Linked DNA regions of Homo sapiens. The protein of the gene in region 1 interacts with the protein of each later gene in a pairwise test. Each region holds a gene or a part of one and is shown in the gene's direction. Other genes may lie near its edges. The genes, in order: RPP14 and NOVA1.

Region 1 (3,813 bases):
GGATAAAGAGGCATCGTAACTGGTCTTGAGTGGGCTCAGAGTGGTTGGAATCTCTGGGCACCCTTGGGCAGATGTTACCTACGTTTACTAAACCTCTGTGTCATCTTCTCGAAAATGGGAATAATAATACCTCTTACCTCAGGAGCATTTTGAAGACAAGCTAAGGCATGTGAAATGTTTAGCAAAGAGCTGGGTGCTCATAAGGAAAATTGTTAGCCAAAATTATGTTGTTATGTTTTAAGTAAGAGTACAGTGATTTGACATTTATAGAATATAGAAACTTATTTTGTATTCGTATGGGTAACCTTAGTTTGATCAGAATTAGATGAGTTACTGTGCTCAGAAGTCTTAAAAACCAAACAGGAGGCCAGGCACAGTGGCTCACACCTGTAATACCGGCACTCTGGGAGGCCGAGGCAGGCGTATCACGAGGTCAGGAGTTCGAGACCAGCCTGACCAATATGGTGAAACCCTGTCTCTACTAAAAATACAAAAAAGGTAGCCGGGCGTGGTAGCACATTCCTATAATCCCAGCTACTCGGGAGGCTGAGGCAGGAGAATTGCTTGAATCCGCGAGGCAGAGGTTGCAGTGAGCCAAGATTGTGCCACTGCACTCCAGCCTGGGCGACAGAGCAAGACTCCTTCTCCAAAAAAAAAATAATAATAACAGGAAGGCCGGGCCTGGTGGCTCACACTTGTAATCCCAGCACTTTGGGAGGCTGAGTTGGGCAAATTGCTTGAGCCCAGGAGTTTGAAACCAGCCTGGGCAACATGGTGAAACCCTGTCTCTACAAAAAATACAAAAATCTGCTGGATGTGGTGGCACGTGCCTATACTCCCAGCTACTCAGGAGTCTGAGGCAGGAGGATCACCTGAGCCTCGAGAGCCAGAGGTGGAGGCTGCAGTGAACTCTGATTGTACCACTGCACTTCAGCCTAGGTGACAGGGTGAGACCCTGCCTTAAAACAAACAAACAAAAAAAACCCAAATAGGCCAAATTCTCATCAAAACTCTGAAAAATAGCATGTGCATTGGTCATTTCTAGCCCTCTTGACTTACTGTAGGTGTGATCAGCACTGGAAAAGATGCCTGCCCCTGCTGCCACATATGAAAGAGTAGTTTACAAAAACCCTTCCGAGTACCACTACATGAAAGTCTGCCTGTAAGTTTAGTTTCCTAAGTTCTATTTTAGATTACTTTTCTAACATGAATCTGAATAGAATGAAATTTAATATGACTTTTTTTTTTTTCACTTTTTTTAGAGAATTTCAAGATTGTGGAGTTGGACTGAATGCTGCACAGTTCAAACAGCTGCTTATTTCGGCTGTGAAGGACCTGTTTGGGGAGGTATGGAATCACTTGGTAGATTGAACATTCCAAAGATCTTTGTAAGAAATACAGAAAGAGGCCGGGCGCGGTAGCTCACGCCTGTAATCCCAGCACTTTGGAGGCCGAGGTGGGCAGATCATGAGGTCAAGAGATCGAGACCATCCTGGCCAACATGGTGAAACCCCATCTGTACTAAAACTGCAAAGATAAGCTGGGTGTGGTGGCAGGCACCTGTAATCCCAGCTACTCGGGAGGCTGAGGCAGGATAATTGCTTGAACCCGGGAGGCAGAGGTTGCAGTGAGCCGAGATAACGCCACTGCACTCCAGCCTGGCAACAGAGCGAGACTCTGTCACAAAAAAAAAAATCGAGAAAGAATGCTTTTCAAACATCAAAAAAAAAAAAAAAATAAATTATACAACTCTGTATTTTTAAATTTTTATTCATTTATTGTAATAAACACATTTGTATTCCTTTTTTTCCTCCTTCATCCTCTCTACCCTCCTACCCTTCCCAGCCTCTGATAATCACCAATCTACTTTCTATCCTCATGAAATCTACTTTTTGTTGTTGTTGTTGTTGTTGTTGTTGTTTTTCTTTGAGATGGAGTCTTGCTTTGTTGCCCAGGCTGGAGTGCAATGGCACATTCTTGGCTCACTGCAGCCTCTGCCTCCCAGATTCAAGGGATCTTCCTGCCTTAGCCCCCCTGGTAGCTGAGATTACAGGCACACGCTACCATGCCCAACTAATTTTTGTATTTTTACTAGAGACAGGGTTTCGTCATGTTGGCCAGGCTGGTCTTGAACTCCTGACCTCAGGTGATCCACGCGCCTTGGGCTCCCAAAGTGCTGGATTACAGGCACGAGCCACTGTGCCTGGCAAGATCTGCTTTTTTAGCTCTCACATATGAGTGAGAACATGCAACAGTTGTCTTTCTGTGCCTGGCTGGCTTCACTTAACAAAATGGCCTCCAGTTCTATTCATGATGCTGCAAATGACAGAATTTCATTCTTTTTTATGGCTGAATAATATTCCATTGTAATATATACCACTTTTTTTTTTTTATCCATTGATGGGCACTTAAGTTCTACATTTTGCCTATTGGGAATACAATAAATATGAGAGTGCATATGTCCTTTTTTTTTTTTTTCCCCACCTTGGCTTCCCAAAGTGCTGGGATGACAGCATGAGCCACTATGCCCAGCTGCACATGTCTTTTTGAATTGATTTCCTTTCTCTTGGATTTATGCTCAGTAGTAGACTTGCTGGATTAAATGGTATTCTATTTTTAGTTTAGTTTCTTTTGTTTTTTGTTTTTGAGATGAAGTCTTGCCGTGATGCCCAGGGTGGAGTGCAGTGGCATGGTCATGGCTCACTACAGCCTCAACCTCCCAAGCTCAAGTGATTCTCCCACCTCAGTATCCCGAGTAGCTGGGACCACAGGCGTGTGCCACCACGCCAATTTTTTTACTTGTAGAGGCAAGGTCTCACTATGTTGCCCAGGCTCCTGGACTCAAGCAATCCTCCTGCCTTGGCCTCCCAAAGCACTGGGATTACAGACATGAGCCACTGCACCTGACCTATTTTTAGTTTTTTGGGAAACCTCCATACTGCTCTCCACAGTGGTTGTACATTTACATTCCTCCCAGTAGTGTGTGAGGGTTCCCCTAGAGATTATTTTATTTTATTTTTATTTATTTATTTTTTGAGACAGAGTCTCGCTCTGTCACCCAGGCTGGAGTGCAGTGGCACAACCTCCGCACCCCCCCCCGCCCCTCCCGGATTCAAGTGATTCTCCTGCCTCAGCCTCCCGAGTAGCTGAGACTACAGGTACCTGCCACCACGCCCAGCTAATTTTTGTATTCCCCTAGAGATTATTTTAAAACTGTGTTTGAAATTGCAGAAGTAAACTTTCAGAAGTGATGAATTTTGTTGGGTTTATTCTAATATGCCTTCTGTTTGACAAGGAACACGTTAGACAAATGATTGTTGTAGCACAGTGCTACTCAAAGTGTGGCCTAGACTGGCACCTGCAAACTCTTTTCCCATCTTGAAGAGATAAGGAATTTGCAGCAGAACCACTTTTAATGAGAAAGTCTCCTTATGGGCCAGGCGCAGTGGCTCACTCCTATAATCCCAGCTCTTCGGGAGGCTGAGATGAGCAGATCACTTACAGTCAGGAGTTTGAGACTAGCCTGGCCAACGTGGTGAAACGCTTTCTCTACTGAAAATACAAAAATTAGCTGGGCATGGTGGCGCACGCTTGTAGTCCCAGCTACTTGGAAGACTGAGGCAGGAGAATTGCTTGAACCTGGGAGGCAGAGGTTGCAGTGAGCAGAGATCACGCCACTGCATTCCAGCCTGGGCAACAGAGCAAGACTCTGTCTCAAAAAAAAAAAAAAAAAAAAGGGCTGGGCACGGTAGCTCACGCCTGTAATCCTAGCACTTTGGGAGGCCAAGGCAGGCAGATCCCAAGGTCAGCCGA
Region 2 (4,443 bases), on another chromosome or scaffold:
TGAGTGGGAGGGAATCCGGAGCTCTAATGTATTACAATACTTAAGACAGCAGCCTTTGCAGTCACGAAGACCTGAGTTTGAAATTACTACAATGTTTATAACTGCGTAACTTTGGGTAAATTTCTAATATCTTTAAACCTAAACTACCTCATAAAATGGGGACAGTAATAACTACACGACATACTGCATGTAATTGACACAGCATGCAAAGTGGATTGTTTGCCACGTGGTAAGTAAGCCCTTAATAAATGGCAAGACGTTAAGGGATTTGCCCAAGATACACTTGTAAAACAGCCTACAAGGACCAGAAACCAAGGAAGATTTCAGACTCCGAATCCCATGCTTTTCTACTACCCTGCTTCCTAGAACACTGAGTTAATTAAACTACTAATTTGATGAACGACCTTGAGCAAAATACTTCACTGAGTCAGTTTACTCATCTGTAAAATGAGGGACTTGATTTAGATAATGCCTAACGTCCTTTCAGAGTCTATTCCAGCTACATTAGATGTTTTATCCGGTGTTGCAGGGTTGACGTTCAGGTCCGTGATATGTCCAAGATCTGTATAATCATAAGCCGTGCACATGGCAATGAATTTTATTCCGACACTCGTATTTCGTTCAATATTTAGTTCTGTGTGCACACTCAGCTGTTGCCTGTCTTTAGTCTGCCTACCAGCGCCTTGTGAAGGGAAGACCCACACCTAGCTTTATTTATTTATATCCTGGCTTGTTCCCGAAAGGATTTAAGGCGGCGAGTGACACTCTAAGTCCCCTAACGGTGTCACACAGTGCGATTAAGAAATCCTCTTTGGATGAAATCATACCGTAGAAAATCGCCGATGAGTGAGATGCTAACTAATTAATGTCTTTTACCCAACTCTTAAAAATAAAAACTAATGCACCTAGCAAGAAGTCCTGGAAGCATACAGTGCTGGCTCTCCCTCCAGCTCTGACGCTGTCCCACCCGTTGTCAACGGTCACTCGAATGCCCTTCTTAGACTAGCCAAAATTGTCGCCGCTCCAGTACCAGCTGGACCAAGATCCCACCCCACCCCTTCGCTGCCCCTCATCACCCAAGTTTCCTGATTGGGAAGGGGCCCGAAGAACCTTTCTCACATTTCTATTTTATTGGCTGGCACGGCTGTCAGTAATCTCTCCTTCCCGCCTTCTAGCCTAGCGCGTTTCGTGGACCCCTTGGTTTCTGCGACAAGCCGCTTACGTTTGCCTGAGCCGTGTTGCCGGGGACCAGCGACCTTTCACCCCTCCCTTCCCACAGGAGCGCCCCGGCCCCCGCCCCCGCCCCAACCGCCGGCGCGCGTCCTCACCGCGCACGCGCTCCCCTCGCGCGCGCACACGCTCGCGCACACACGCTCCCTCGCCCCCGCCCGCGGAGTTCCCCCTCACCCCTCAGCCGCCCCGCCGGCTGAAGCATCGGCGCTGGGAGGCGGCGGCGCTGCTGAGAGGCAGGGACCCGAGCGCGAAGTGTGTGGGAGTCTACGAACTCAACCCCTCTCTACCCTCCCCTCACAGCCACCCCCCTCCCTCCCCGCCAGCCCCCCCCAACAAGCGGGAGAAATAATGAGCGAGACCGGGCGGCAGCAGCAGCAGCGCCGAGCAGCCCAGGCAACGGCAGAACCGCTCCGGCAGCGGCGGCGGCGGCAGCACCAGCAGCGGGAGCGAGCGCAACGCTAGCGCGGCGCGGGGACCGCCGCGCTCCTTCCCGGCTCCTGCCCTCCTCTGCCGCTCGCTCCTCTCTCGGCATCCACCTCCTTCCCCTCCTCCTGCTCATTCACTCTTTCCCTCACTCTCCCCTCCTCCTCGGCTTCTCCCCGCGCCCCGCCAGCCCTCGCGCTCTCCCACTCCCTCTGCCTGTCCTCCCCGGTCCCCTCCTCCCGCTCATTCACTCGCCCCTCTCCCTTCTCCACTCTCTCCCCCTGTCTCCTTTCTTCTTCTTCTTTCACCCTCCGTCTCTCACACCCCCTCCATTCCCCTGTCTCCTTTCTGACACTGCACTGCAGCTGCTCCTCAGCCCTGCCCCCTCCCCAGTGAGAACAAACCAGCAACATTGCTTTTTTTCCTAAAGAGATTTATATTGATCCGATTAAAAAAAAAAAACCTTAAGAAACCCCAAACGCAAAAAAAAAAAAAAAAAAAAAAGAAAAAAGAAAAGAAAAAGCCAAAACAAAAGGGAGAACCTTCTCCCGGTAGCAGCGGCAGGAACTGCAAACATGATGGCGGCAGCTCCCATCCAGCAGAACGGGACCCACACTGGGGTTCCCATAGACCTGGACCCGCCGGACTCGCGGAAAAGGCCGCTGGAAGCCCCCCCTGAAGCCGGCAGCACCAAGAGGACCAATACGGGCGGTGGGTATCGCTTCCACCTCCCCGCTGGCCCCATCCCCCGCCGCCCGCCCCTGCCTCCCTCCCTCGCCGTCCTCCCTCCCTCCTTCCCTCCCTCCCTCCCGCGGCCCGGACACCTCCAGCCCGAACCCGGCGGCCCCTGCGCCCCTGCCCCGCGCCCCCTCCCCTGCACCTGCCCCGCGCCTAGGTGTCCCCGACACATTTCCATTTCTGTGTTTATCATTCATCAAAATGGCGACCAGTTTTTCGGAATAGACCTATCTTTCCATTTAATCGGTCCAGAGGTTGACCATGTAAATATCCTAGACCTGGGCAAGAAGGTCCATTCAGGAGGAGGAGGAGGATGACCCCGGAGTGAGGTGATGGCCGCCCGAAGATGCGCGCTGCGTTTAACAGTCTGATAAAATAAATAAATAAATGGCACTTGGGTAGCGGATTGCGAATGACTGGGGCGCCGGAGAGTTTTTCCTCTCTCCATCCTCTTGCTTTGGGCCACAAGTAGTATGCAAAATCTTGATGAGTGCATGCCCTTACCGCACTTAGATTGTCGGTGCAAATATTTCATTGATTTGTCTTCAGGGGGGTGCATACGAGGGTGGGGGTGTCTGGAACGGTGACTTGTTAGTTAACATCCTGCGCTTCCTTGGAAGATGAGTTTTAACGGGACCGATATCGCTTCTTCATTTGCACTGGAATCATCTTAACAATGCACCCAATGCATCGAAGCAGAGGTGAATTTATCTCCAGCATATGCATTGTAGACGGATGGGGGTCTTTTGAGTGGCACACCACAACATTTGGAACATTCATTCACATTAAGAAAGCTGGATTTACCGGGGTGTCTCCTGTATAAGATGTGATCAAGTTGACGGAAATTAAAGTTTGTGGAGTTGGCTTAATTTTCTAAAACGTTTCATTTTATTTTTCCTGGTTCTTCCACCCCCTTTCCGTTTTAAAAGTTGTGATTATTTTGGGAAAGGAACATTACCTGTTTTGTCACTTTTAAGCCTATTTAATATAAATGACTCCTAAGCTTTTTAGTATTGGCAGAATTCTTCTTAAGGTCCTTTAATTAATGAGCTTAAACGAGATCACGGTAGACTAAGAAGTGCTAAAGAAATGCACTAGGATTAGTTAGATTTGCCAGTCCACCACACTGAGTTATTTCCTGGCAGTTATTGAAGACTTGGAATACACCCCACAGTTTGGGTGGATTATTTGGTAGGAGAATGGTTGTTTTGCGGACTTTAAGTAGGATATAGGCAATGGCTAATTGTAGTCCTTATGTGTCTGCTAATGACAAATAAATATAGCTCATCACTATTTACAGTCCTGGGCTTTTCTTCTTTTTTAATATGTTAAGTGAAGGTTTGTCATCTTATAAACCTCTGAAGTTTTGTTAAAGGGTCAGTTCATTTCATTTTGCCACAGATAGAATTGGAAGATTTCCATGTTTGGAATAACAACTGGAATTTAGTCATCAGTTTTTACAGTGCTGCAAAATAATAGAATATGTTTATATTTTAATTCCAAGCTTGAAAGTATAAATCCTATAAAATGGGAAACATTTTGTACCTGTTTGTTTTTCAATGTAATTGGCTTATTTTCATTCTCAAAAAATGTTTAACTTCATATTTCCTGCAGTTATATACCCAGTGCTTTAGTTGCTGTTTTTCTCTCTTGAGGGTGGAGAGGGGATACAAAGTTTGAAATACTGTGTTAACCGAGTATATTTCTTTGCATTTTTCAGAAGACGGCCAGTATTTTCTAAAGGTTCTCATACCTAGTTATGCTGCTGGATCTATAATTGGGAAGGGAGGACAGACAATTGTTCAGTTGCAAAAAGAAACTGGAGCCACCATCAAGCTGTCTAAGTCCAAAGATTTTTACCCAGGTAGGTGCAATGGTGAAGAGATTGTTTGATGAGCTCCCCACAGGAAAGAAAGATCTACTTGTGTTGTGTGCTGTCTTGAAAGAATTTTTAAACAATACTGGAGACTTTATTTAGATATTGCTTTATAGGAATATATTGTGGAAAAATTTTCAGATTATTTCTATTGTTGATTATGCCTTTTTCCT

Evidence for each region.
Region 2: the proteins of RPP14 (region 1) and NOVA1 interact in a two-hybrid assay, tested with the Homo sapiens proteins (one large-scale study listed by BioGRID and IntAct).

The regions. Positions count from the first base shown.
Region 1 is NC_000003.12:58,309,245-58,313,057, forward strand, and holds part of RPP14 (ribonuclease P protein subunit p14), read left to right. Parts: intron 1-1,064; 5' UTR 1,065-1,085; coding exon 1,086-1,162; intron 1,163-1,262; coding exon 1,263-1,347; intron 1,348-3,813. UniProt on the Homo sapiens protein: Component of ribonuclease P, a ribonucleoprotein complex that generates mature tRNA molecules by cleaving their 5'-ends.
Region 2 is NC_000014.9:26,595,225-26,599,667, reverse strand, and holds the start of NOVA1 (RNA-binding protein Nova-1), read left to right. Parts: upstream 1-1,634; 5' UTR 1,635-2,231; coding exon 2,232-2,367; intron 2,368-2,585; exon of another isoform or gene 2,586-3,070; coding exon of another isoform or gene 3,071-3,095; intron 3,096-3,570; exon of another isoform or gene 3,571-3,770; intron 3,771-4,114; coding exon 4,115-4,258; intron 4,259-4,443. UniProt on the Homo sapiens protein: Functions to regulate alternative splicing in neurons by binding pre-mRNA in a sequence-specific manner to activate exon inclusion or exclusion. It binds specifically to the sequences 5'-YCAY-3' and regulates splicing in only a subset of regulated exons.